4 separate regions of the Homo sapiens genome follow, and regions 2, 3 and 4 are each linked to region 1. Evidence: fine-mapped expression QTL. A gene starts in region 1. Each other region holds a variant in brackets. All regions are shown on one strand. Distances are from middle to middle.

The links. PIP is the estimated chance that this variant, and not a neighbour inherited with it, causes the effect. A credible set is the group of variants that fine-mapping cannot tell apart.
Region 2: its variant is the best candidate, but not a certain one, in a credible set for the expression of RAD54L2 in whole blood (INTERVAL, PIP 0.66).
Region 3: its variant is the best candidate, but not a certain one, in a credible set for the expression of RAD54L2 in spleen (GTEx, PIP 0.78).
Region 4: its variant is the best candidate, but not a certain one, in a credible set for the expression of RAD54L2 in unexposed skin (GTEx, PIP 0.55).

What each region holds. Positions count from the first base shown.
Region 1 is chr3:51,534,428-51,542,543 of GRCh38, forward strand. It overlaps RAD54L2 (RAD54 like 2), which reads left to right and starts at 4,292. Exons shown (of 23, transcript NM_015106.4): 1 at 4,292-4,488; 2 at 7,162-7,223. LOC105377085 (a long non-coding RNA gene) reads left to right here. Exons shown (of 3, transcript XR_940835.3): 2 at 1,359-1,560; 3 at 1,732-2,242. RefSeq lists enhancers at 4,066-4,360, 5,179-5,268 and a silencer at 4,249-4,648.
Region 2 is chr3:51,584,117-51,591,756 of GRCh38, forward strand. It overlaps RAD54L2 (RAD54 like 2), which reads left to right. Exons shown (of 23, transcript NM_015106.4): 3 at 6,251-6,443. The coding sequence starts at 6,305. Among named protein-coding and RNA genes, the nearest start is that of RAD54L2, 49 kb to the left of the region's middle. The variant C/T (reference allele first, on the strand shown) is at 5,415.
Region 3 is chr3:51,783,742-51,791,857 of GRCh38, forward strand. All of the region lies in intron 2 of LOC105377087 (a long non-coding RNA gene), which reads left to right. Among named protein-coding and RNA genes, the nearest start is that of IQCF6, 8.6 kb to the left of the region's middle. The variant G/A (reference allele first, on the strand shown) is at 3,616.
Region 4 is chr3:51,634,274-51,639,273 of GRCh38, forward strand. It overlaps RAD54L2 (RAD54 like 2), which reads left to right. Exons shown (of 23, transcript NM_015106.4): 10 at 1,320-1,516; 11 at 2,888-3,230; 12 at 3,871-4,048. Among named protein-coding and RNA genes, the nearest start is that of TEX264, 34 kb to the right of the region's middle. The variant C/T (reference allele first, on the strand shown) is at 2,584.

The DNA.
Region 1 (8,116 bases):
GTGCTGTGTTCCCCAGGGCATATCAGCATCTGAAATACAACTGGGGAACAATAAACATCTGTTCATTTGAATGAACATCCATATAGGATAGGTTTCTATTAGTCACATTCTACAGACCACACTCTTCTAGGCTCAACTCTGAACATACTTCCTCATTCATGTTGGGGATGGTTATAAGCATGGGCTCTGGACCTAGATGATCTGCACTCAAACCCCATCGCTCTTCTGACTTCTCAGCTTATTTTTCCACCTTTGAAGTGGAATGTTGATGTGAGGATTAAATGAGTTAATAACTGTAAAATGCTTATGGTCATGCCTGTCATGTCTTACTAGTATTCCCCAGCATTGGGTACAGTGCCTGGTACATCTTTTATTTATTTATTTATTTATTTATTTATTTTTGAGACGGAGTCTCGCACTGTCACCCAGGCTGGAGTGCAATGGCGTCATCTCGGCTCACTGCAAGTTCTGCCTCCTGGGTTCACGCCATTCTCCTGCCTCAGCCTCCTGAGTAGCTGGGACTACAGGCGCCCGCCACCACGCCTGGCTAATTCTTGTATTTTTAGTAGAGACGGGATTTCACCATGTTAGCCAGGATGGTCTTGATCTCCTGACCTCATGATCCGCCCGCCTTGGCCTCCCAAAGTGCTGGGATTACAGGCATGAGCCACCGTGCCTGGCCAGTGCCTGGTACATATTGGTACCCAGTAAATAGTTGCTGAATGGGGAATTTTATGGCGTAGCAATTATGCTAGGCCGTCATTAGATACTGGGGTCGATTTTTAAAAAATCTCCTAGGACATTATAATCTGGGTGATGAGTGGTATACAAGCAGAAAAGGTAAAAATATCCCAAGAATGGGATGACTGTTGAAGAAAGCAATACAACCCTTTGTCACCTTGGAATCTGGTTCAGAGTGATCATGGCTTTGGCATTCAGAAGTGAGGGGGGGCCATTAAGTGTGGCTGGTGGGTGCAGGATTGATCTAACTCTCACGGAATAAGCAGGAGGTGAAACAGATAAAATGAAGAGGGTGGCTTGAACCTGGGAGGTGGAGGATGCAGTGAGCCGAGATCACGACACTGCACTCCAGCCTGGGTGACAGAGCAAGACTCCATCTCAAAAAAAAAAAAAAAAAAAAAAATGAAGAGAGTGTTTTTCCATGTGTGTTTTCATGGTGATGAAGAAAACCTTGTTCTGGTTTCTGATTAACCAACAAGTCCCTGGTGAATTTTGCCTAATCCCAGAAGGGCAGTCCCAGATCTTTTAAACTCACTTAAAGGTATAGCCAACAATAGGCAGGTGTATGCATAAATCACTCTAGGGACTTCCCCTAATAGAACCAAATCTTTCTACAGGTGAATTTTGGGGTACCATGAATCTCAGAGGTTGTTGTGCGGGCATGACATCATCCAAGTAGTCAGGGAATTTCTAGAAGGGTGGGGAAACAGATGTTACAGAAGGACAATGCCATCCTGGGAGGAGGGAATGGAAGAGGCTTCCATCACCAGGGGAGCTAGCTCTGGCCTTTGTGGCTCCTACTTTAGTGACATGAGAAAGGTAAGTGTCTATGTTTTGGTGGTTGTGCCTTAAGTCTTTTAATTGGGGGCCAGGGGATGGGGGTGGGGGGATTAACAATAGGAGTGTGTGTGTGTGTGTGTGTGTGTGTGTGTGTGTGCGTTTAAATATATCTGGCCAACCTGACTGGTTTCTTTCTCCTCTCTTTGGTAGTCTCTGGGGCTTTCATGTGAACCTGTTTCAACTCCTGAGGCCAAATATGCTCTATGTGTCACCCGGAGAGTCCCAGCTAAGAGGCCAAATGAGTAAAATGCAAGACATGAAGCTGGGAGGGGTCGGAATGCTGATCTGACCTCAGGCTGCTGGAGAGAAGTTAACTAGCTTTTTAAAATTTTTATTTATTTTTTTAAGAGATAGTGTCTTGCTATATTGCCCAAGCTGAACTTGACTTCCTGGGCTCAAGTGAGCCTCCTGCCTCAGCCTTCTGAGAAGCTGGGACTACAGAAATGTGCCACTGCACTTGGCTGGAACCAGCTTTTGAGGCATTCTTTGCCTCTGAAGAACCTAGGATGAAGTTCCTCTTACCTGAGGAAGCGGAGAAGCTTCCAGAGGCTTTGACTGTGCTGCTTTCTAACCCATGAGCCTGCTGTTTCCAGAAGGAACACTCTATTAGTCTGTTCTCACACTGCTATAAATAAATGCCTGGCACTGGATAATTTATAAAGAAGAGGTTTAATTGGCTCATGGCTGTACAGAAAGCATGATGCTGGCATCTGCTGGGCTTCAGGGGAGGACTCAGAAAACTTACATTCATGGTGGAAGGCGAAGGGGGAGCGAGCACCTCACAAGGCTGGAGTAGGAGGAAAAGAGAAGTGGGGGGAGGTGCCATACACTTTTTTTTTTTAAGACAGCCTCACTGTTGCCCAGGCTGGAGTGCAGTGGCACAATCTCAGCTCACTGCAATCTCCACCTCCTGGGTTCAAGTGATTCTCCTGCCTCAGCCTCCCGAGTAGCTGGGATTGCAGACACACACCATCATGCCTGGCTAATTTTTGCATTTTTAGTAGAGACAGGGTTTTGCCATTTTGGCCAGGCTAGTCTCAAACTCCTAACCTCAGGTGATCCACTTGCCTCGGCCTCCCAAAGTGCTGGGATTATAGGTATGAGCCACCGCGCCTAGCCGACACCATACACTTTTAAACAACCAGATCTTGTGAGAACTCACAAGAAGAGAACCAAAGGGACAGTGCTAAGCCATTCATGAAGGATCTACCCCCATGATCCCATTACTTCCCACCAGACCCCACCTCCAACATTGGGGATTACAATTCAACATGAGATTTGGGTGGGGACACAGATCCATATTAGATAGCAAAGTGCCTTTTGACAGGCAGAACCCTTTCATTACCTCCAGAAAATAATATAAATGAAAAATCAGGCATATATGTGTCTCAGAAGCCAAGGGGGTATGTAAAAATGGGAAATTTGAGAACACCTGAAAATTAGGATTTTTTTTGGAACACCTTCTGCAGATCTAAATTCCCATCAAGAGTTAGCTCCAAAAATAACCGCATCTGGTATCTTAGAGGTGTGAAGGCCTAGAAGAAAAGGAAAGTGGGGACGAGAAAGGAATTGCTATCCTCTTGATTTTATGAGTAAAATACAAAGCCTTCAAAGAAAGATGCACTTTTGTAATTTAAAACATCACTTTGTCGGCCAGAGGTGGTGGCTCACGCCTGGTGGCCCAGCACTTTGGGAGGCAGAGGTGGGCAGGATCACCTGAGGTCAGGAGTTCGAGACCCGCCTGCCCAATATGGCGAAACCCTGTCTCTACTAAAAATGCAAAAAATTAGCGGGGCGTGGTGGCGGGCGCCTGTAATCCCAGCTACTCGGGAGGCTGAGGCGGGAGAATAGCTTGAACCCAGGAGGCGGAGGTTGCAGTGAGCCAAGATCCCGCCACTGCACTCCAGCCTGGGCGACAAGAGCGAAACTCCTTCTCAAAAAAAAAAAAATCATTTTGTCAACATTCACTTATTGGGAAGAGGAGAAGAGAACCTGAGGCTATAGTGGAGAGAGCCGTTACAGTCCCATCAGTAACTGGAGCCCACATGGCCACATGGCAGTAATTCCCAACTTGAGGAAGGAGAACCTGCACCCTTAACCTCCACCTGAGTGTCAGCAATCAAGAAAGCCCCCTTTTGCCTCTGCTTCTCTTCCAGGGAATTCTGAAGACAGCTTCACTTAACAGGAAACAGGATGGTAGGTGGGGACCGAGGGTGAAAAAAGAAGAGTTACATGATGCGCATAATTTCAAGGGCCCTTGAGGGCTGAGCACAACCTATGTTGGAGGCAACAGTAGCAGCAGCATTGGCAGGATCAGTAACGATCGTACCCCGGTGTAGAGCTCCCTATCTCTGAGCTAGGTATTCGCATCACCTCATTCAATCCTAACAAGCCGCCTAGATTATTCCCAATGAGAAATGAGGAGAAACTGAGGCTCAATTGAGATGCTAAATGGCTGGCGAGTGCAAAACCATTCCGTTGGACCCACCCCTAGAACCATTCTCAGGCAGCTTCTGGCTTGGGATTTCTGTGCGGCATTCATTCCAGAAACGGTCCCATCCAGGCAGGAATCGCCGTACACCCGGCGCAGGGGAACGGCCTTCAGTCGGCTCTCAGCGGAACTTTCCTCTCCGCGGCGCGTGTTCCCGTCCGTGCGGTCGGGCGCGCGGGCCGGGAGGGGGACGCTTTCTGGCGCGGACCGTGAGCGGAGGCTGGCGAGCGCCGCCGCCGGTGGAGACCGACGCTTGGCCAGAGCCAGCCCGCGGCGCCCGGGCCTGGCCGGCTGCTTCCCGCCTCAGCCGCCGCCCCCGCCTCCGCCGCCGCAGACTTTGCCTAGGCGGGCGAAGCTGAACGTGAGGTCCCTCGGCCCTGCGCGGTCCGGCGCGGCCCGGAGCCGCGGCGCAGGAGGTGAGACGCCGGTGCCGGTTCCTCGCTCCCGGCCGGGGCCGCCGGGTCCCGCAACAATGGGGACCGACTGGAGACGCGGCCTGGGCCCCTGCCATGCAGTGGCTCGGGGCAGCTAGATGGACCCAGCGGCCCGGGCCTTCGGGGCACGGGGTCCCCCACCCGGGAAACTCCAGTGGCCGGAGGCTTGGCGGGGGTCTTGGGCCTCGACCCGGGGCCTCAGTGGCTTGATATTTGAGGATTTCGTAGCCGGGGAAGGGAGTCGTAGGGACACGGAGACTTAACTGTTGCCCCTCTGCGCTTTTGGCTCTGGATGCTGGCGCCCCGGAGGATGACCAGAGCGCGGTGTGGGGTTGGGAAAGTATTTGGAATTTTAGGGGCTTCTGTGTGTCTAATCCCTAAGGCGCATCTGGATGCGTCTCCCCGACCCCCTCTCCTGAGGTCTGGGAATTTGGCAGACTGGGGTCGGGCTGGGGCAGAAGAGGCATTGAGAGTTTAGCTTCCCTGAGGTAACTGGTGATTAGTTCCTGGAAAGGCAGGAGCTCAGCTGGGCACAAGAGAGTTAAGCAGAGAGCTGGATCCTCCGGGGCCCTGATGCACCCTGACGAGGAGTGGTTTTCAGGCAAGGAACTTATCACAGGAGTGAGTAGTGGCACACGGTGAGTAGTGCTAGCTGTCTTGTCGTTAGGGTGAGGCCGGTGGGAGTTGTGGTTTGGGGAGTGTAGAGGAGGGTTGATAGGCTACTGAGATTGGAGAATCAGCTTTATGTGGGTCATGGTGGTGGCAGCCTGGGAGATGAACAAGGAAACTTTGCAGAGTGGGCTTCCTGATGGAGAGTGACCTCTTACTGCGTGGGAGTGGGTGACTCAGATCTGTTAGGATTCCTGTTGCTTGCTAGGGATTGTGGCTGACTATATTGGTGGCTGAACATTGAGGTGGATGCAACTGGAAGGGTTATGTGGGGCTGGATGAGTTTGTTCCCACGTAGAGGACAGTGTGGACCTTTCTTACTCCAAGTCAGAGTGGTGACTGTCATTGACAACATTTTAAGTAAGGAATTTCTTTGTGGTATTTGGATCCAAAGCTTTTCTCTGTTCATTTTTTTCTTTCCTCCGTTGTTTTTGAATTGTGACTCATACTTTCTTTTCAGCACTGTGGCTATTTGAAATGATAGACAAACTTAGACTTCATCATACATGTAAGTTCCAGGCGTTTTCAGTCCAATTCTTATAAATCTAAATTTAAAAGCTTCTTTTCACTAATTTGTGTACCATTGTTTAATGTGTGCAACACTAAAGAAGGATAAGAAAACTCTAACATTTATGTTGTTAAATGGTCTTTCCATCCTTAAATCCATGAAATTTCATCTTCTCTTACTGCCATGAAGTGAGTTCGTTGAATCTATTAAATCTTAGTGACTCTCATTTCAGCATCCTTGTTTACTCTCACAGGACATTGTCTTCACTAGAAGTATTATCCATCTTCAATGAATTTGGCCTGTACACTGTCTCCCTGTGACAATCTATATCATTGAAAGACAGTACGCAAACTCCAACTCTGAGGCCTGCAGCTGTGGGCCGGAGCTCTGTATGTATTATTCAGGCAAAAGTTGGTGTGTTGTCTGTAGGTGAGGTTTAAAGGGAACCCTACATGAACAAAAACAGTATCAGAATCATTGTACCTTCTGAGTTTAGAGTGGTAGGAAATATAGCCTAACTGGAGTCTAGTATAAACTTTCAAGTGCAATGTTAGGTAATTCTGTTTGTAGTTGTACTGATAGTTCTCATTATTGTAAACATTATCTTTTTCCTTAAGCTTTAAATAATTATTTTTCTTCAATGGTATTCTTTCTTTCTTGGCTGGGTGTGGTGGCTAACGCCTGTAATCCCAACACTTTGGGAGGTCGAGGCGGGCATATCACATGAGGTCAGGAGATTGAGCCTGCATGGCGAAACCCTGTCTCTACTAAAACTACAAAAATTAGCCGGTGGGGTGGCATGTGCCTGTAGTCCCAGCTACTCTGGAGGCAGAGGGACAAGAATCACTTGAATCTGGGAGGCAGAGGTTACAATGAGCCGAGATCGTGCCACTGCACTCCAGCCTCAGCGACAAAGCGAGACTCTGACTCAAAAAAAAAAAAAAAAAAAAAAAGTAGTATTCTTTCTCTTTCTCCATTCATTCTTTCATAAACGAACATTTATTGCATTTTGCCAGGCACTGCTTTGGGCACCTCAAAAATGCTGATGATATTTTTTAACATTTTGTTAGTGGTAGTTCCTGGTTTAGAGGTGGTTATAGGTCTATGAAGAAAGAAGTGATTCAGGTATATCAAGCTTTTAATCAGTAAAGACATTGAATAAAGTTTTTATAATGTATTAATTTTGACTGGTGACAGTTAATTATCTTAACATCTCCATGGAAAAAGTTTAGCTATCACTGTGAGTTCATGCTGGTATGGGATTATTTTTGCACTATTTTATACACCTGTTAATTTTAAGTACTCCTGTAGACAAACCACAGGTAAAACATTTTGTTTTGGTGTATGTCTCAACGAGCAGTGATTTACAAATACTATATGTGTTCAGATTCCCCAGGAAGCCATCACACTCCTTCCCACTGTGGTTTTGGGAGCATGAAGGCGTTGCTTATCCCCTATGTCTGGTTCACTGTATGTAGGCTGGGAGTGTCTGCTGATCACTTGGAGTGCTGTCCCTTGGAACAGGAGGAGTAAGATTGAGGTAAGGCTCAGTCTGTTTGAAAGTCATTTGCTTCTTAATTTTTACTGCATAAAATATAATGTAAATCTGAATGTTTTTTGCTTTGTTACTCTTCATTCTGATCTATTAAAATGAAATTCTGCCTTTTGCTGTCTATCTCTCTGTGTATATATCTTGGGCAAAAATAAATGAAGAAATGTAAAATCAAGGTATTTAAATAATAAATGAATTCTTCAAAATAGCTCTCATTTTCCATCTGGACTATTCACTTGATCAAAGAAAATAAAAACTTGTTTATTTGTTGCCTTAAAGGCAAGGTGATTGCTTAAATAAATGTTTTTGGCCACCTCTTAGTTAAATGGATCAACTTCAGAAACTCTTGGAAATAAGGCTTAGAGTTTTCTATTTCTTTAGAAAAAGTCTGAGAGAAGAAATGTCTGGTACAATGGGAAGAGCTTGGTTTTTGGAGTCTTCCCACTTTTTCTTGCTCAATTTTTGACCCTTGATAAGCTGTTAACCTCTCTGAGCTTTGGTTTGGTTTTGTTTTTCCATCTGTAAAATGGGCCTAATACAGCCTTCTTTGCAGATTGCATCGAGGACTGGAGATGAGGGCCTCAAGCTTTGAGGGTGGTCAGTGCTGGTTGTCAGTAGTAGTTAATGTGTATTATTATATAGGACCTCTAATCTCAGTAGTATTAATAGTAGGAATGTGGCTGGGTACTGTGGTGCTGTGCAGGATTCAAGTTTCCTTGTCTGGTGAGGAAGGCAGCTGTCTGCACCTGTTGGCACTCTGGACAGGTGAGGAAATTTTGAGGTTGTCTTTTTTTTTTTTTTGAGACGGAGTCTTGCTCTGTTGCCCAGTCTGGAGTGCAGTGGTGCGATCTCGGCTCACTGCAAGCTCCACCTCCCAGGTT
Region 2 (7,640 bases), 49 kb after region 1:
AGTTATTCATAGAGCTGTGGCTGGAATTAGGTTTCTTGACTGATTCTGTAAACATGTCTTTAGTGCTATGCTAGGTTCTGATTCCCTGGGCCAGGCTACATTGTGCTATCTTTTGGAGGTAGTTGTCTCCTGTGGAGAGAGTTGTCTTCTGTGGCCCTGGTCCTTCGAGTCTTGAATGCATTTGTTCACCTTTTGTTTCTTATTTTCTCTTAAGTTTCAAATTGCCAAAATCATCATTATATTTCCAAGTAAAATGTTGAGCTGTTGTGTCAGTTTAGCTCTGTGGCTGCTTTGTGTGTATCTAAATTTTCTTTATGTAACTGATAGACACTCAAAAGGCATTGGGCTACATGGAGGTTTGAAGTATGCATTGGGTGTGATTGGAGTAGTGTCTGTTTTGCATAGGAAGGTATTTGGAAAGAACTTTAACAGTCCATAGTGGATCTCTCAGCAGACTGGAAGAATTCTGTGGGTACTTGGTGAGTACTATACTCCGTATAGTACTCTACAGTACTATATATATATATATATATGCTATATATACTATAATATATATACTCTATAGTACTTACTATAGAGTAACTGAACTTTCTTTTGTCTTTGAATTATATAAATTCCTTGTCTATTTTTTTTAAGGGTATTGACCAAAACTTTGGACTGAATGTTTTCCTGCTGTTCTTTTTAAAAATTTTTTATTTATTTATTTATTTTTCGAGACTGGCTCTGTTACCTAGGCTGGAGTACAGTGGTACAGTCATGGCTCATTGCAGCCTTAACCTCCCGGGCTCAAGTGATTCTCCCACCTCAGCCTCCCAAGTAGATGGGACTACAGGTACACACCACTATGCCTGGCTAATTTTTTTTTTGTAGAGGTGGGGTCTTCTCTACAAAAAAGCCCAGCCCAGGCTGGTCTCAAACTCCTGGGCTCAAACGATTCTCCTGCCTCAGTCTCCCAAAGTGTTGGGATTATAGGAGTGAGCCACTATGCCTGGCCTGTTTTTCTACTCTTAAAAGACTTTCTTCCCCTTGTAAATTAGCTCAAATCCAGTGTTTTGTATAGATATTCTTCAAGAAAAAAAACAAGTCATTTGCGCTTGCTGTGGACTTGCTTTGAGACCACTTGACAGAATTTAGTACTACTGAAGGTCACCAAAATTAATGAGGACATGGCAGTCTGGGAAGGATCTTTTTATTTAAAAGGAACAATCATGATGCTATCAAGGACCATAATGACATCTGTGAAATTTCATGAGCTGCCTCACAATGATGAGGCAGCGTGTGTGCTCGGAGTCTTATGATTTCAGTGTGAACTCTGCAAGCCTGGTCGTCTGCTTTGTGAACAAAGGCTTTGTTTGTGTGTGTGTTTCCTCTTGTGTATATCCTAATATCCCCACCTTGCCATGCCTCATGTCTCTAAGGCCTGTGCCTGCATGATTAATTCTGCTGATTGTTGGCCAGGTACCACTCTATTGACAGGTGGCGTTGTCTTTGAACTTAGCAAGGCAGAACAATATTTTCCTTCACTCTCACGATTGCTATGAGGTGCTAGGCTAGGATTGGCTATGGGTTTCTTCATAATTACAGCCTCCTTTTAACAAACCTAATATATTAAACTGTAGACTTATTAAAACACTTAGGGGTTGAATATTTGCTTTTCAGAGCGGTCCTCTTTAGAGTTCCTTTAAATAGCTAGTTCTCCAGTTTCATTAAAATACAATTTGATTCCCAGAACTTGCACTGTAAGAACACAGGTCCTCATTAAGGTGCAGCATACCCATTATTGCTCTCCTGGTTTCTGTGTATTAGAGGCAGAGCCCCTTGTCACTGGAGATTGTAGCAGTGTTTTGCCTAGAATGAGGAGCAAATGAGGGAGATGGATTATTTTCTTTATCACCACCCCGCCCCCACCGCCACCAACCATGTCTGTCTAACAGTTCTGCTAAGAGCTGACTACTGAATCAAGGCTGCCTTGTGTTCTGAAAGGCTATGCCCACATAGACGTATGTGTGTGTGAGGGTGGAGCCCCTTAGAGAAGAATACAGTTGACTGCTGCTGCCCACCAAGACCAGCCTTTCCTCCTTTTCACTTGTTGCCTGGGCTCAAGTGATCCTCCTGCCTCAGTCTCCCAAGTAGCTGGGACTACAGGTGCACACCACCAAGTCCAGCTAGTTTTTGTATATTTTGTAGATATGGGCATCGCTGTGTTGCCCAGGCTTGTCTTGAACTCCTGGGCTCAAGCAATTCCCCCACCATGGCCTCCCAAAGTGCTGGGATTACAGGCATGAACCATCACACCAGGCTCTTTGTTGCCTTTGTTTTTTTTTTTTTGGAAGTCTCTGTCGCCACCACACAATTTCTTCTCTAGAATGACAGGCATTCAGGTTGCCTAAAAGTACTTGCTAATTAAAAATGGTTCTCTAAAATCAGCCAAGCACACTGCAAAGAAAACACTTTTTTTTTTTTTTTTTTGAGATGGAGTTTCACTCTTGTTGCCCAGGCTGGAGTGCAGTGGTGGGATCTCAGCTCACTGGAATCTCCACCTCCTGGGTTCAGGCGATTCTTCTGCTTCAGCGTCCCGAGTAGCTGGGATTATAGGCATGCGCTACTATGCCTGGCTAATTTTGTATTTTTAGTAGAGATGGGGGTTTCACCATGTTGTTTGGGCTGGTCTTGAACTCCTGACCTCAGGTGATCTGCTCACTTCAGCCTCCCAAAGTGCTGGGATTACAGATGTGAGCCACCATGCCTGGCCAAAACACTCTTATCTCAAGGAGTCTAGGATGAAAGAGAGGGGTTGTGCTGTTTACAACCATTGACTTCCAAACACAGAGTAGTTACTGATGAATATACTAACATTCAGAAATAAATTTCACTGCAAATATTAAGAAGTAAATTTTACTTTCAAAGTTGTTGATATCTAATTGATTTACTACTTCCTTTCTAAAACCTATTAAATGAACCAGTGACACAGGGTAGTGATTTCTTTCTTTTTTTTTTTCTCGAGATGGGAGTCTCGCTGTGTCGCCCAGGCTGGAGTGCAGTGGCGTGATCTCGGCTCACTGCAAGCTCCGCCTCCCGGGTTCACGCCATTCTCCTGCCTCAGCCTCCCAAGTAGCTGGGACTACAGGCGCCCGCCACCACGCCCGGCTAATTTTTTGTATTTTTTAGTAGAGACGGAGTTTCACACGTGTTAGCCAGGATGGTTTTGATCTCCTGACCTCGTGATCCGCCTGCCTCGGCCTCCCAAAGTGCTGGGATTACAAGCATGAGCAACCACGTCTGGCCGGATAGTCGTTTCTGCAGAGATTTAAAATCTGCCAGGTCACTAAGTGAATGGTAGCTCAGCATTAACTATATGAATTTGTATTTGTCGATCACATTTATCCCCTGTCCCTTAATGCCCTTTGCAGATGTTTTTGGAAGTGAGTTATTAATGCAAAAATTTAAATTTTATTACTAGATCATTTCACAGCTGTTTTTTACTTTGAGAGGCTAAGTACATGAACCATCTGCACACACACACTCGTAATTCCTGTTATTTCTAACTCTGAACAATTCTTAAGTTCTAGTTTTCCAAAACTCTAAATAATCTAGTTTGCTTTTCTTTTTTTCTTTTCTGTTCAGGAGAAGATAGATGTTATGTTTCAAATTATCTGAAGCTTAGTAAGATATTGCAGTTCTGCAGTACTTTTTATGTTAAATGACTAGAGACTTGTACTTCAGTTTTTATTTTGGGAGATAGGAATTTGAGGATGATCTGATTGTTGATGTATTTATCTGCAGCAGTTTGTCTTGTAAAAGATGATTTATGGCCGGGTGCGGTGGCTCATGCCTGTAATCCCAGCACTTTGGGAGGTCAGGAGATCGAGACCATCCTGGCTAACACGGTGAGACCCCGTCTCTACTAAAAATACAAAAAATTAGCCGGGCGTGGTGGCAGGCGCCTGTAGTCCCAGCTACTTGGGAGGCTGAGGCAGGAGAATGGTATGAACTCAGGAGGTGGAGCTTGCAGTAAGCCAAGATCGCACCACTGCACTCCAGCCTGGGTGACAGAGTGAGACTCCATCTCAAAAAAAAAAAAAAAAAAAAAAAAAAAGATGATTTACCTCTTCTCTGATTTTAGTGTGAAAATTTGAGGCTGGGCACAGTGGCTGATGCCTGTAATCCCAGCACTTTGGGAGGCTGAGGCGGGAGGATCACCTGAGGTCAGGAGTTAGAAAACAGCCTGGCCAACATGGTAAAACCCCGTCTCTGCTAAAAATACAAAAATTAGCTGGGTGTGGTGGTGCACACCTGTAGTTCCAGCTACTCGGGAGGCTGAGGCAGGAGAATCACCTGAACCCAGGAGGTGGAGGTTGCAGTGAGCTGAGATCGTGCCACTGCATGCCAGCCTGGGTGACAGAGTGAAACTGCATCTCAAAAAAAAAAAAAAAAAAAAGAAAAGAAAATTTGAAATATACAGAAAAAATGGAAAGAATTGGTCAGTGAATTTACTAGTTAACATTTTGCTATATTTACTTTATCAAAGAGCTAACCCAACTAGCCATCTCTTTACCATGGTTTTTATTTTTTTACCCTCACGAAGGAATGGCCTTTACAGCTAATAGTAAAGTGATAAGAGAGACAGACATGCACAGTGCCTGACACATGATAGACATAGTATAGCAGGTTAGCAAATGATGGACTGAATGTGAATGAATGAATAACTTGGGTAAAACATACTTCTAGCTCCTGTGTACTCCCAGCCACTCCTCCTCTGCCGTTGGTGCTCGGTCTTCCTGGAACACACTCCCTCAAGATGTCTTTACGGCTTCCTTCCTTCCTTTTGGTTTCTGCTCAGTGAGAACTTCACTGACCTCCCCTATATAAACTAGCAGCTCCTCCTGCCACACACCAGCCCTAAGTATTCCCTGCATGCTTTGTTCTGCTTCCTGCTGTGTCCCCAAACTCTAGAATAGCACCTGCGATTATATACAACTGTTCCTCCATGTACAATGGGGTTACATCCTGATAAATGCATCGTAAGTTGAAAATATTGTAAGTTGAAAGTCTATTTAATACACCTAACCTACTGAACATCATAATTTGGGCTAGACTACCTTAAAGGTGCTCAGAACACTTAACACTGTCTTAGCCAGGCATGGTTGTATGTGCCTGTCGTCCTAGCTACTCAGGAGGTCTTAGGCAGAAGGATTGCTTGAACCCAGGAATTTGAGGCTGCAGTGAGCTATGATTGTGCCTCTGCACTCCACCCACACTCCAGCCTGGCCAACAGAGCTGGACCTTGTCTAAAAATAAATAAATAAAATAAAGAGCACTTACATTGTCTACAGTCAAAATCATCTGGCAGCACAGAAAACTGCACACTTCATGATAGCATGGTGGACTGGAAGCTTTGGCTCATTGCTGTTACT[C/T]AGCATTGCCAGAGAGTATAGTTCCATATGTCACTAGCCTGGGAAAAATTTAAAATTTGAAGCACAGTTTCTACTGAATGTGTGTCATTTTCGCACAATTGTAAGTTAAACCATCGCAGGTTGGGGACTCTATACATATATATATATATATATACACACACACACACACACACACACATACACACACATATATGTATATGTATAAATAGATACAGAGAGTTGGTGCTCAGGAAACAGTTGATACAGGAAGGAATGAACAAATGGGATTTCCAAGGTTTATAGTTTTGTTGTTATTGTTACTTTAAGGTGTTTTCTTGTCAAAATAGCCAAGAGATGTTTGAGCTATGCAGAGTCACTAAAACATGTCTCAGAGCCAGAACACTCATAGGGAAGGTGGTGATTTGGATACGGTTAGCTTGCCTTGCTTAGAGAAGTTCCGGGGAATTCATGTTCAGCATTTTTTTCTTTGTTTTTCTTTTGGAGAGAGTCTCACCTCGTCGCTCAGGCTGGAATGCAGTGGCGCCATCTTGGCTCACTGCAACCTCTGCCTCCCCGGTTCAAGCAATTCTCATGCCTCAGCCACCTGAGTAGCTGGGATTACAGGTGTGTGCCACCATGCCTGACTAACTTTTGTATTTTTAGTAGAGATGGGTTTTCACCATGTTGGCCAGGCTGGTCTCGAACTCCTGACCTCAAGTGATCCACCCACCTTGACCTCCCAAAGTGCTGGGATTACAGGCATGAGCCACTGTGCCCAGCTAGCATTTTTTTCTTTGAAAGACTTGTGTTCCTAAGCAAAACCCTTGGTGATTCTGATGCCTTTCATCCTCTCCTAGCACCCCTGCAGTGGACCATGAGTCGGTAATGCCCACTGAGGACCTCTGGGAGCCATGTCAGACGAATCTGCCTCAGGGAGCGATCCAGACCTGGACCCGGACGTGGAGCTGGAGGATGCGGAAGAGGAGGAGGAGGAGGAGGAGGTGGCAGTGGAGGAGTGTGACAGGGATGATGAAGAAGACCTGCTGGATGGTAAGTGGGCTCTATTGAGTGACAGAAGTTGCCTTATATTTTCCTCCAGTGGAATTTTTGCTGGGAGACCTTGGCGTTTCCAGTTAGATTTCTTAGGCCATCCATAGTGGGAAGATACAGACTAGGAACTGAGATGCAATGAATTCAGATGCTCATTCCTAGGAAATAGATTATTGTTCCTCCACATAAGCTTTGTTTTACTGCTGGAAGAACCTTTAGCCTTTAGCTTGTCTCTGACAGATGTTTGGACTCAGGTCCAGAGATTCGAGTGTTGCATACTTGCCCAGGTCATGGAGGAGTCAATGGCAGAGTTCCTATGGTAAGACTTTGCAGTCTGGAGGCCATGGGCTCTTCAGGTAGATGTGAGGGTAACTGTGAGTGGTCTGTAAGTTTTCTGAAATTATACATACAATTGTGCTTGTGTGTACATGAGGGAATTGTCCAGGCAGAGATTCTTAGACAGATTCACAACTTCAGAAAGCTCACTGCATCTCCTGCAGTGCTGCGCTACCTCTTGGCCATTCCAGTGACTATAAATTGCCCCTACTGGGAGGGCACTACATCTCCATAGCTGGTAGATCCCCTTTTGATGCCTTCTATTTGGTTTGCTCAGCTCACTCCTTCCTTTGCCCTCAGCTTCTTGAAATGGCATTGAACTTTTAATGTTCAGTCTAATGTTAGGTTATTTGGCCAGCCACAAGGCTTCTCAATTAATTCCAGCCTTTTATGGCATAGGATTTAGTTGTTTGTAAGCTTCCTACTGACTGAGGAATAGGGTTTTTGTCTGTTCATAACAGACCCCCTAGTGGGACTGAACGTTGCATTAGATCATCTAATTACTTGAATCTGAAGGAACGTAGGAAAATGTACTCCTGCCGTTCTCCAGATTCCAGGAGGATGAGCACTGATCCTCTGTCTTTACTGGTGTTTACTATCTTCAGTTCTCATTCATCCTAACAGCTGTCATGTGGCTTGGGAATCCGTTTGCCCTCCTTTATACTGTCCAGAAGCCTCTCTCCATTTCTGCGGGGAAATGACCATTCACTTTTATCCCTCCAGTAGCATTTGCTGTCTGTTGCTAGCTTATTCAGTTGGAGTCTCATTTCTAGAAAGTAGAATGAATAGAAATAATGGAAGACAGTAATGTTTGCTTGGCTCTCATTGTTCCTGAGATGCTGTTAGAGTCCCTAGGTGTCA
Region 3 (8,116 bases), 250 kb after region 1:
TGCTATTACAAATGGAATTGTTTTCTTAATTTCATTTTTGAATTGTTCACTCCTAGTGTGTAGAAATACACATGATTTTTGTATGTTGATCTTATATCCTGCAACTTTGAAGAATTAGTTTTTTAGCCCTAATAGATTTTGTTGTGGATTCTTTAGGATTTTCTTTATGTTTTTATGTATGTAAGGTCATGTTATCTGCAAACAGATAGTTTTCTTTTCTTTCTTTTTTTTTTTTTTTTGTTTTTGAGACAGAGTCTCACTGTGTTGCCCAGGCTGGAGTGCAGTTGTGCAATCTCAGCTCACTGTACCCTCCGCCTCCTGGAAGCAATCCTCCCACCTCAGCCTCCTGAGTAGTTGGGACGTGCCACTATGCTTGGCTAATTTTTTATGATTTTTGTAGAGATGAGGTCTCATTATATTGCCCAGACTGGTCTCAAACTCCGGGACTCAGGTGATCCTCCTGCCTCAGCCTCCCAAAGTGCTGATATTACAGGTGTGAGCCACTGTGCCCGGCTAGTTTTACATCTTCCTTTCCAATTTGTGGGCATTTTAGTTTTCTTTCTTGCTTAATTTCCCTGGCTAGAACTTCCAGTACAATGTTGAATAACAGTGATGAAAACAGACATCCTTATCTTGCTCCTGATCTGAGAGAAAAATCTTTCAATCTTTCACCATTAATTATGATGCTCATTGTGGATTTTTCATAGATGATCTTTAGCAGGTTGGAAAAGTTCCCTTCTATTCCTAGTTTATTTAGTGTTTTTATCATGAGAGAGTGTTGGATTTTGTCAAATTCCTTTTTTGCATCAATTGAGGTAACTGTGTGTTTTCCCCCCTTTAGTCTGTTAATATGATGTATGACATTGATTTTTGTATGTTGAACCTTCTTTGCATTGCTGGGATAAATCCCAGTAGGTCATAGTGTATAATCCTTTTAATATGCTATTAGATTTGAGTTGCTACTATTTTCTGAGGATTTTTGAGTCTATATTCATAAGGGATATCACTCTTTAGTTTCTTATAGTGTCTTTGTCTGGCTTTGGTAACAGGGTAATGCTGGCCTCAAGGAATTAGTTAAGAAGTGCCCCTATTCCTCTATTTTTTGGAAGAATTTTAGAAGAATTGGTGTTGGTTTCTCTTTAATGTCTGATAAAATCCACCAGTGAAGACAATCGGTCCTGGATTTTTCTTTATTGGAAATGATTTGATTACTGATTCAATCTCTTTACTTGATATAGAGCTATTCAGATTTTCTAATACTTCTTCAGTTGGTTTTGGTAGTTTGTGTGTTTCTAGGAATTTGCCCATTTCATAGGTTATCTAATTTGTTTATATACAATTGTTCATAGTATTATTTTATAATCTTTTTTATTTCTATAAAGTTGGTAGTAGTGTTCCCACTTTCATTTCTGATGTTAGTACTTTAAGTCTTATGTCTCTTTGCTTGTTTAGTGTAGCTAAAGGTTTGCCAATTTTTGTTGATATTTTTAAAGAATCAACTTTTGGTTTTGCTGATCTATAGTTTTTCTTAATTTTCTATTTAGTTTATCTCTGCTATAATCTTACTATTTCTCTCCTGTTGGCTTTGTGTTTAGTTTGCTCTTCTTCTAGTTTCTCAAGGTAGAATGCTATACTTTTTCTAGTTTCTTTAGGTAGAAGGCTATGTTATTGAGATCTTTCTTTTTTTTTAATGAATGTAGCCATTTGCAGCTATAAATTTCCTTCTGAGCACTGCTTTTGATGCATTCCACAGGTTTTTGCACATTGTGCTTTTATTTTCATTCATATCAAAGTAAATTCTATTTTTTTGTGATTTATTCTTTGACCCATCAGTTGTTTAGAAGTGTGTTGCTGATTTCCTCAAATTGGTGAATTTTCCATATTTCCTTTGATTGTTGATTTCTATGATCATTCCACTGTGATCAGAGAAGATATTTTTATGATTTCAATCATTTTCAATTTATTGAGACTTGTTTTGTGGCTTAACATATGGTCTATCCTGGAGAATGTTTTGTGTGTACTTAAAAAGAATGGGTATTCTGCTGTTGGATGAGTACTCTATATAGGTTCGATAAGTCTAGTTGCTGTGTAGTGATGTACAAATATTCTATTTCCTTGTTTATCGTTTGTCTAGGTGATCATCTATTCATTATTGAAAGTGGGATGTTGAAGTCTCCAACCATTGTTGTTGAACTGTTTATTTCCCCCTTTATCTGGGTCAGTTTTTGCTTCTTATACTTTGGGGCTCTTATTAGGTACATATATGCTTATAATTATTATGTATTAATGGATTGACTCATCATTATACAATGCTTTTGTCTATTGGAAGAATTTTTTGTCTTACATTCTATTTTGTCTAATATTAGTTATTCTCTAGTGTCCTTTCATTTCCACCAGAGGGACTTCCTTTACCCATTCTTAAAGGGCAGGTTGTGTAAGATCAAGCCAAGTGAACGGGTCAAACATTTTACCCAGAGCCAGAGAGGAAATGTTATAAAACTGGGTAAGCTCACAAAATACCTGTACTTGTTGGGCCATGGCCTTTAGATTGGTTTATACGTGGTCAGAGTTATTTATATACATGCAATAGGTTGCTCCTTAGATGGCGCAGACTCCCTCCCCTCTGCTCTGACCAGGAACTAATCTAGGGTGAGGTGATTATCTAATACCACCTGGGCTAGAGAGTCATGTGATTGTTGCACCAGGGTGAGACTGTGCTATATCAGATTTATGTGTTGGGACAGCATAGCTGACAAGTTTGTATTGACCTAAATGATTTGTTGCTGTGTTACAGTGGCAGTACTCATTACAGTTCCTGCTAGTGAATAAGCCTGCTCCTAAGAGTATGGAAATAAAAATAGCTCACATTTGTCAGAATGAATATGGTCTGGCTGGGAACCAAGGGGTCTTGGCTACTTGAATATAAGGGAGGGCCCAAAGACATTAGGTAGTGATATGGTTTGGCTATGTCTTCACCCAAATGTCAATTTGAATTGTATCTCCCAGAATTCCCACATGTTGTGGGAGGGACCCAGGGGGAGGTAATTGAATCATGGGGGCCAATCATTCCTGTGCTATTCTCATGATAGTGAATAAGTCTCAAGAGATCTGATGGGTTTATCAGGGGATAGTGAATAAGTCTCAAGAGATCTGGTGGGTTTCTGTTTTTGCTTCTCTCTCATTTTTCTCTTGCTGCCACCATGTAAGAAGTGCCTTTCATCTCCTGCTGTGATTGTGAGGCCTCCCCAGCCATGTGGAACTGTAAGTCCAATTAAATCTCTTTTTCTTCCCAGTTTCAGGTATGTCTTTATCAGCAGCATGAAAATGAACTAATATAGTAAATTGGTACCAGTAGAGTGGGGTGTTACTGAAAAGATACCTGAAAATGTGGAAGTGACTTTGGAACTGGGTAACAGGCAGAGATTGGAACAATTTGGAGGACTCAGAAGAAGACAGTAAAATGTGGGAAAGTTTGGGACCTCCTAGAGGCTTGTTGAATGTCTTTGACAAAAATGCTGATAGTGATATGAACAATAAGGTCCAGACTGAAGTGGTCTCAGATGGAGATGAGGAACTTGTTGGGAACTGGAGCAAAAGTGACTTTTGCTATGTTTT[G/A]GTGAGACTGGCAGCATTTTGCCCCTGCCCTAGAGATTTGTGGAACTTTGAACTTGAGAGAGATGATTTAGGGTACCTGGTGGAGGAGATTTCTAAGCAGCAAAGCATTCGAAAGGTGATTTGGGTGCTGTTAAAAGCATTCCATTTTAAAAGGAAAACAGATCATAAAAGTTCAGAAAATTTGCAGCCTGATGATGCAGTGGAAAAAAAAAACATTTATGGAGAAGAAATTCAAGCTGGCCACAGAAATTTGCATAAGTAGCAAGGAGCCTAATGTTAACCCCCAAGACTATGGGGAAAATGTCTCCAGGCCATGACAGAGAACTTCATGACAGCCCCTTCCATCACAGGCCTGGAGGCCCAGGGGGAAAAAGTGGTTTTGTGGGCTGGGTCCAGGGTCCCCATGCTGTGTGCACCCTAGGGACTTGGTGCCCTGTGTCCCAGGTGCTCCAGCCATGGCTGAAAGGGGACAATGTACAGCTCAGGCTGTGGCTTCAGAGGGTGGAAGCCCCAAACCTTGGCAGCTTCCACCCTCTGAAGCTGTTGAGACTGTGGGTGCACAGAAGTCAAGAATTGAGGTTTGGGAGCCTCTGCCTAGATTTCAGAAGATGTATGGAAATGCCTGGAGGCCAAGGCAAAAGTTTGCTGCAGGGCTGGGTCCCTCATGGAGAACCTCTGCTAAGGCAGTGCAGAAGGGAAATGTGGGGTTGGACCCCCCACACAGAGCCCCTACTGGGGCACTGCCTGGTGGAGCTGTGAAAAGAGGGACACTATCCTCTAGATCCCAGAAAGTTAGATCCTCTGGCAACTTGCACTGTTTGCTTGGAAAAGCCGCAGACACGCAACACCAGCCTGTGAAAACAGCCAGGAGGGAGGCTGTACTCTGCAAAGCCACAGGGGCGGAGCTGCCCAAGACCATGGGACCCCACCTCTTGCATCAGTGTGATCTGGATGTGCGATCTGGACTCAAAGGAGATCATTTTGGAGCTTTAAAGTTTGACTGCCCTGCTGGATTTTGGACTTGCATGTGCCCTATAACCCCTTTGTTTTGGCCAATTTCTCCCATCTGGAACAGCTGTATTTACCGAATACCTGTATCCTCATTATATCTAGGAAGTAACTAGCTTGCTTTTGATTTTACAGGCTCATAGGTGGAAGGGACTTGCCTTGTCTCAGATGAGACTTTGGACTGTGGACTTTTGGGTTGATGCTGAAATGAGTTAAGACTTTCAGGGACTGTTGGGAAGGCATAATTGGTTTTGAAATGTGAAGACATGAGATCTGGAGGGTCCAGGGGTGGGACAATATGGTTTGGCTGTGTTCCCACCCAAATTTCAACTTGAATTGTATCTCCCAGAATTCCCACATGTTGTGGGAGGAACCCAGGGGGAGGTTATTGAATCATGGGGGCTGGTCTTTCTTGTGTTATTCTTGTGATAGTGAATACGTTTCACAAGATCTGATGGGTTCATCAGGGGTTTCTGTTTTTCCTTCTCTCTCATTTTTCTCTTGCCACTGCCATGTAAAAAGTGACTTTCACCCTCTGCCAGGATTGTGAGGCCTCCCCAGCCATGTGGAACTGTAAGTCCAATTAAACCTCTTTTTGTTCCTAGTTTCGGGTATGTCTTTATCAGCAGTGTGAAAATGAGCTAATACAGGTAGGACACATTTGAAGTTACAGATTTGGGTCTGGACCCTGTTGTTCCCCTTGCATAAAGGGAGGCAGAAGTGGGCTGTGGGAATCAGGAGTGCATGTAATGAGTCCCAAGTTTCACAGGACCATGGTATACCCCATGGATGAATTAGAGAACCTGAAAATGGGCTATGTTACCCTAGGCCCCAAGAGGTGAAGTGACACTGAGCTCCCAAGTGTCTCCAAGTCATGTTAAATCTGGGTCAGATATGTAAACACAATCCCTGCTTGGGGTTCTGGAGGGGCAAATAACAACATGTATGCCTTGGATGCCAAGCAGTTGGGCTGTAATTTTGGGTTTTATGTTAGCAAGAGAGAGTGATATCTGTAGTGCTGGTAATTGTGCCAGACCAGGGGGAATTAGAGTAGCTCAGGGAACAGCTTTGGTGTGGTATATTAACAGGCCCAACAATTACATCTCCTGAGAAGCTTGGCTCTGATTTCATCCCACTGTGTTAAAATATTAGGACTATTAGGCTCATAAGGGGAGGTAGTAGTAGAGGGGCAGTCTGATCTCTGATGGTGTGGATGATCCTGCATTTGGGGAGACCTCAAAGGATGTGTCTAAGGTGTTGGGGGAGGAAGTGGTGAAGTGGTAGGTGGGGCAGCGGTGGTAGAAAAATAACTATCCCAACAGATGTCAAAATGTCTCCAATCCTGGAGGACCCAGAACTCAGTCCATCTCCATGTAGGAGGTGTGGCCAGACAGGGGATGGTTAGGTTAATTGGAACTCCAGTGAGGTGTGGGTAAGCACACATGACTTAGCCTGCCACAATTGGTGACAGCAGTCAAGAGTGGTCTGGCCAGTATCATGGGCCAATTGGTAGAATCACAGGCAATAATGTAAGCCAGGAGACTTCGTGACAGGGAATGCACTAGCTTGGTAAAACGCCCTTCCAAAGGTTCCTCCTCATCAGGGAACTTAGAAAGACAAATTTGAGTTCTGTAACCAAGTCCTAGATGGGGGGTGCAGGAGTTGTCAGTCATCAGTTGTCTTACCTTCCTGGACACTGTCATGGCCAAGGGTCCAGGTCAGGTAAAGGTGGTGTTGTCCCCTGTTGTCTTGGGCTGAGGCACTGTCGTCTTCTGTGTAGCAAGGTGCCACATTGTCTTGGGCTGGGTGCTATCATTGGAGCCATTTCCATCTCCAAGACTAGGTTGTCATCTCCTGACATTGATGATATCTACCAATTTTAGCACCTCCTCTTCTACAAGACAAGTATACGTCCCAGGTAGCAACTCAAAACAGGAAGATGGGGCACTGGGGGCCTACAGTGGTCCAATACATTTGGGAGGCGCTGAGCAGGCTATGTTTACATTGTTGAGACGGACTACTGAAATCACAGATTATAAGTAATCACTGAGGGTCCTTGAGGGTGCATTGTGCAAAGGCTTTGGAGGTGCTTTTTTTCTGAAGAGGAGGATATTTCCATCCATAGATAGTACACACTGCATGCATGGCCTTTGGCCAAAGAGAACACAATATATTGTGGAAATATCACCAAATCAGCTGGTATAGATCTAACCATTCTTCTTATTGACAATTAATACTCCTAATACTCCAAGGAATGGAAGTACCACTGTTTATGCATCCATTTCCTTAGCTATGGGTATTCTTTTGTTCATTGTTTTTATTTGCCACTACATATTGTGTGGCATAAATGTCTTTCATGTGTGTCATCACACACATGAAATGCTATCACTCAGGGCTTCTCATAGGACAGTGTGGCTTCTGGGCCAAAGGGTATGAAGGGTATGGGCCTATTAAATTTTAACAGATGATGCCAAACTGCCCCTTTAGAAAGCCATAATTCCACCAACCATAGTGTATGAGAACACCATGCATCTCTGCCAACAGTAGGCATTATCACACTTACAGATTCTTTTTAGTCTAAAGGGTATAAAGTAACATCTCATAGTAACTTTATTTTACATTTCTATTGCTACTGGGAGGATTGGGTATACTTTCATATGTTCATTGATAATATTAGGTTGGTGCAAAAGTAATTGCAGTTTTTGCCATTACTTTTTTTTGTTGAGACGGAGGCTCACTCTGTCACCCAGGCTAGAGGGTAGTGGCACGATCTTGGCTCACTGCAACCTCTGCCTCCCAGGTTCAAGTGATTCTCATGCCTTAGCCTCCTGAGTAGCTGGGATTACAGGCATCCGTCACCATGCCTGGCTAATTTTTGTATTTTTAGTAGAGACGGGGTTTCATCATGTTAGCCAGACTGGTCTCGAACCCCTGACCTCAGGTGATCTGCCCACCTCGGCCTCCCAAAGTGCTAGGATTACAGACATGAGCCACCGCACCTGGCCTATTTTTGCCATTACTTTCAGTGGCAAACCGCAATTACTTGTGCACCAACCTAATATATATTTGCTCTTCTATTTATATTCTTTTGGCCATTTTTCTATTGGGTTGTAGTTTTGTCATCCGGGACAACTCTACAGTCATTCAAACTGTTTATCTGTCATTTGTTTTGCAATTCTCCTTTCTGTTTTTTTTAACCTTTGCTTATGAAAGTATCTTTTGCCAGTGAAGCATTTCAGTCAAACATATCTCTTTTTTTTTCTTTTTCTTTTTCTTTTTCTTTTTTTTTTTTAAGATGGAATCTTGCTCTGTGGCCCAGGCTGGAGTGCAGTGGCGTGATCTCAGCTCACTGCAACCTCCACCTCCTGGGTTCAAGTGATTCTCCTACCTCAGCCTCCCGAGTAGCTGGGACTACAGGTGCATGCCAGCACACCTGGCTAATTTTTTGTATTTTTAGTAGAGATGGAGTTTCACCGTGTTAGCCAGATTGGTT
Region 4 (5,000 bases), 98 kb after region 1:
TGAAAAATATGTGGGCATGGTCATATTTTCCCATGCATATCGTAGTAAAATTCAACACGAAACAATGGATCTTTCCACTGTCTGATTTTTTTTTTTTTTTTTTTTTTTTTTTTTGAGACGGAGTCTTGTTCTGTCACCCAGGCTGGAGTGCAGTGGTGCAATCTCAGTTCACTGCAACCTCTGCTTCCCAGGTTCAAGTGATTCTCCTGCCTCAGCCTCCCGAGTAGCTGGGATTACAGGCACCCATCACCATGTCCGACTAATTTTTGTATTTTTAGTAGAGACAGGGTTTTGCCATGTTGGCCAGGCTGGTCTCGAACTCCTGACCTCAGGTGATCCGCCCACCTTGTCCTCCCAGAGTGTTGGGATTACAGGCGTAAGCCACCATGCCTGGTCTCTACTGTCTAATTTTTTACTTATTACATTTCACTTTTCTTAAAAACCTAATCATTAGTCACTTCTTTTAAGCACTGGTCTGCAATTGACCTTTAATGGTACAACTCCCAAAGCTTTGAAAGGTGTCAGCCTTGCTTTGTTTTAGATTTAAATAAAATTATCTATATATGTATGCCATAAAGTCAACCTGATTTCCAAAAGTCTAAAGCTATTTCTTGATCCAACAAACCAGCTCTACATGCTAACCTTTCCCCTCATTGGTGTGGATAATTGAGAAAGTAGACTTTACTATATTTTTTTCAGAGGGTGCCTTTTGTGATGTTTGGACACACACATAAAAATGAGGAGATGATTAGTTGACCTCACAGGTGGTTGCTCATTCAGGACTTTTAGTCCACATGCAATCAGTGAAATACAGTGAGTGCTCCGGTGTTTGGAAGTGGAGTGACTTACTGAGGGTCATCTGGTCTCTTCTCCTCTTTCCTCTTTACTGTTTGTGGCTCTTTATTCACTTGAGTCCAGGCAAGTAAACTGCAGAATGTTGCCCTTCCTTCTGTGACCTTGTATTTATCATGGGATTGAAATGCTCCTTCAAATGTTGAGTTGTAGTCATGCCTGAATATCCAAGGGGGTTGTCATTTTCTCTTGCCTTATGTAGTTGAATTGCTATGTTTCTTGCTGTTTAACCACCATCAATGATCCAGTTCATCCTGAGTGCAATTAGTTTCTCTGGGATGATGGGAGGTTCTTGGGTGGTAGGCTACCCCTGTGCTTGCTGCCACATGAAATCTTTGGTAATAAGAAGTTCTGAATGTACATCAACACAGCTTTGATTGTGAGCAATTCTTCCTTGGGAGCAGCAGAAACAATAATTCTTGAGATATAATTCACATCTCACACAATTTTCTCTGTTCATCTTGCAGGACGATGGCATCTCGTGCTAAAGTGATGGCTGATTGGGTGTCAGAGGGTGGCGTGCTGCTGATGGGGTACGAGATGTACAGACTCCTCACTCTGAAGAAATCATTTGCCACAGGTAGACCGAAGAAAACCAAGAAGCGTTCTCACCCAGTCATCATTGATCTAGATGAGGAAGATCGGCAGCAGGAGTTTCGGAGAGGTGGGCAGCCTATCCCAGGAATACTCTTGTTGGTGTTTCAGGAAAAAAGAAATCATGTCTACTAATAGCACCTAGTCAGATGTAAAGTGCATTATTGATGTGAATTGTTATCATGGACCAAAAATCCTGGTTCCCAAGATCAGTAGGATGACTTCCAATGGCTCTGAGAAGGTACTGCTTTCTCTGCCAGCTGTGCAGTTATGGTTAGGCCAGGCCACACACTGGCTTGGGGGAGATTCCTCTGTTCGTCTATCCCTGTTTCTCTTACAGAACAGTTGGAATAGTAACCATTTCCTTTACCACTTTCTAGAGATGTTCTGAGAAAGCATGAAGAAAATATAAAGTGTTTAAATCACTAATATAAAGACAAAGTAGTAATACTATTGTTTGTGAATTTATAAAAAAGAATTTATCCCAGTTGTTTTTAGTGAAAACCATTCCTGTCATAGTTCTAATTCTACTCCATCTTCTAAGGGGCCTTTGCTCATTTGGGGAAGAATGTTTTTAAGGGTTCAGAGGCCATTTCACTTTAGAAGTCTCTTCATCTATGAGATTATGTTTGTTCTAGGTTTGCTTCTATGGTAGAGCTGGGATGAATTTGCCATTTAGCAATGACTGGAAAATAACTGCGGGAAGACCCTGTCCTTTAGCTAGCTCCTACCAGCCAGCCCTCAGATGGAGTCAAGACGCTGGCAATGGTGAGAGCCTACTAAAGTGTCTGGATTATTCCTATTGGTTTCATCCAGGTGCATTTTTAATCCTAGGCTGGCACTCTGTAAGGTCCCTCTCTCTGCTGCCCAGTTGGTCTAAGCCCTAGGAATGCAAGTCAGTTATACTTTTCACATAAAGAAAAATAAAGTAAGGAAAGGAACGGAACGGGGGAAAGGGATATTTATTGCAAGAGTCAACTGCCAGAGGCAGATCATGAGGTCAGGAGTTCGAGACCAGCCTGGCCAACATGGTGAAACACCATCTCTACTAAAAATACAAAAAATTAGCCAGGCATGGTGGCGCATGCCTCTAATCCCAGCTACTTGGGAGGCTGAGGCAGGAGAATCGCTTGAACC[C/T]GGGAGGCAGAGGTTGCAGTGAGCGGAGATTGCGCCACTGCACTCCAGCCTGGACGACAGTGTGAGACTCTGTCTCAAAAAAGAAAAAAAAAGAGTCAACTGCCAGATTAGCATTCATACCAAGTCATACCAGTCATATCCAGGAGCTTGAATGGCTGGCACCCTCTCACCAAGGGGGGCTGACTCTTGCTTTCCTGCTTCCTTCATTTCTTCTGTCTCCTCCAGGGTGCACCCCTACTTCTCATATTATTGACTAAGAGCAGGCCCTGTCACCCTCTGACTCCGGATCCTCTTCCCTCCCTAGAGTTTGAGAAGGCTTTATGCCGCCCTGGCCCTGATGTAGTAATCTGTGATGAGGGACACCGCATCAAAAACTGCCAGGCCAGCACCTCACAGGCTCTGAAGAATATCCGCTCTCGCCGCCGGGTGGTGCTGACTGGGTACCCTCTGCAAAACAACCTCATTGAGTACTGGTGCATGGTGGACTTTGTGCGCCCAGACTTCCTTGGCACCCGGCAGGAGTTCAGCAACATGTTTGAACGCCCTATCCTGAATGGGCAATGTATTGACAGCACACCTCAGGACGTCCGCCTCATGCGGTACCGGAGCCATGTCCTGCACAGTCTTCTGGAGGGCTTTGTGCAGAGGTGAGCCATCCTCAGGGTCCTGCTTCCTGAATTTTCAGAGGGCCCTGTTGCCAAGGGCATGCCAAACCTGTTATACAGGATAGGGTGTTGGAGTAGGAGGGCCCCTTCCCTGGGGCAGTAGTAAAACTTTGCTTCCTGTGACAAGCTAGCAGATGGTGGATATCCACTGTTTCAGTTCTCTGAAAGTTTGGCCTAGAAGTGCTTCTCTCAAAAGTTATCTTTAAAGGTACTGGAGACACCTGTCTTACTTGCTGAGAGAAGCAAGAAAAAGGTACCATTCTGCTGACTTACCTTAGGCTAGTCTAAAGCAGACCCCTCATTTTTCCTTGTTGAGATGGCATATGGAGCGAAAGCTCAGAGAGGCAGCCCAAATTAAAGTAAGAACCTCAAGTTCCCCTGTCTCTGTCATGCAGTCAGACTTGACCTGGGACAGGTCACTCTGCCTCTTAGTGTTAGTTTTCATCCTTAAGGTGAGTTTCTTCTTGGTTGTTGAACCACTCTGCATTATTGCAAGGCTGCAGTGCATGTTGAGATCCTCAAGAGGGAGGTGTGGCAGGAGTGCAAAAGGCTCTGTTTTTATCTTGTGCTGACCCCTCCTGGCCACACTACCTTGCCGTTTCTGTTCTGTTTGCCTCCATAGGAGAGGCCACACTGTGCTGAAGATTCATCTCCCTGCCAAGGAAGAAAATGTGATCCTTGTGCGGCTCTCCAAGATCCAGCGAGATTTGTATACACAGTTCATGGATCGCTTCCGGGACTGTGGTAGCAGCGGTTGGCTGGGGCTGAACCCCCTTAAGGCATTCTGTGTGTGTTGCAAGGTGCATTGGGGCCTCAGGGAAGATTGAGATGGGGACTAAGGATACACATGGTCCCAAGGGAGTTACTCCTACTGAGAGTCTTCAATAAAGGGAGAATAAAGTGAGAGGGGGCCACCTCAGTTCACTGCACTGGAGGTTTGGGGGCTCCAAGGAGAGAGGTGATGGTTTTGTACCACATAACTCCTGGGGGTGCCATTCACACAGTGTAATATAACTGATGCCCCCTGCAGTGTGCAACTCAGCTGCACAACTTGTTATTCCAAGGGGATTAATGGAAAAATACTGTGGGGCAGCGTTTTTGACTGCTAGCATAATCAGAATTCAAGAGATATATAGCTTAGACAAGTTATTAGGGGTACCTTCCATTGGATTCCATACTTAATCAGATTGAGACCTCTCTCATTCTTTTCTTGAGGGACCTGTTTCATTGACTTCATACCTCTACCCCTGGCTACTCTTCAGCAGACCTGTTAGGTATTATTCTTAATTGACCACTGCTTTAATAAGTCAGCAGAAGGTATGTGTCTGGGGACAAGAGGGGTTTCCAAATATTTCTTTTATAGCCACAGTCCTGGGTCAAGGCCAGGAAACTAAGGCAAGCGTGGTCTGTGATGATGCTTTGGTATCACTGCATCCTTCCTTCTTCCTTTCCTCTCTTCTCCTGGGAGTTCTCAACTCTTGCTAGGAATACTCTGTGAAATGATATGTGATTGGTCTACTATAAGTCAGATACATTTTGTCTATAGTTTTATACAGTAGCAGACTGTAGCCACACTGTGAAACTGGAACATTCTTACTCTTATTTGAATAAGAATGTCAAAAAGGCTTGTGACAGCTTTTTTGATTATGTATCAAACATACTTACTGGCATGGCTCCTGGTATGCATGCTGCCATTCATGTGTCATGGTGACCAGAACTGATAATCAAAACAAATATGCAGGCCCTTTGGCT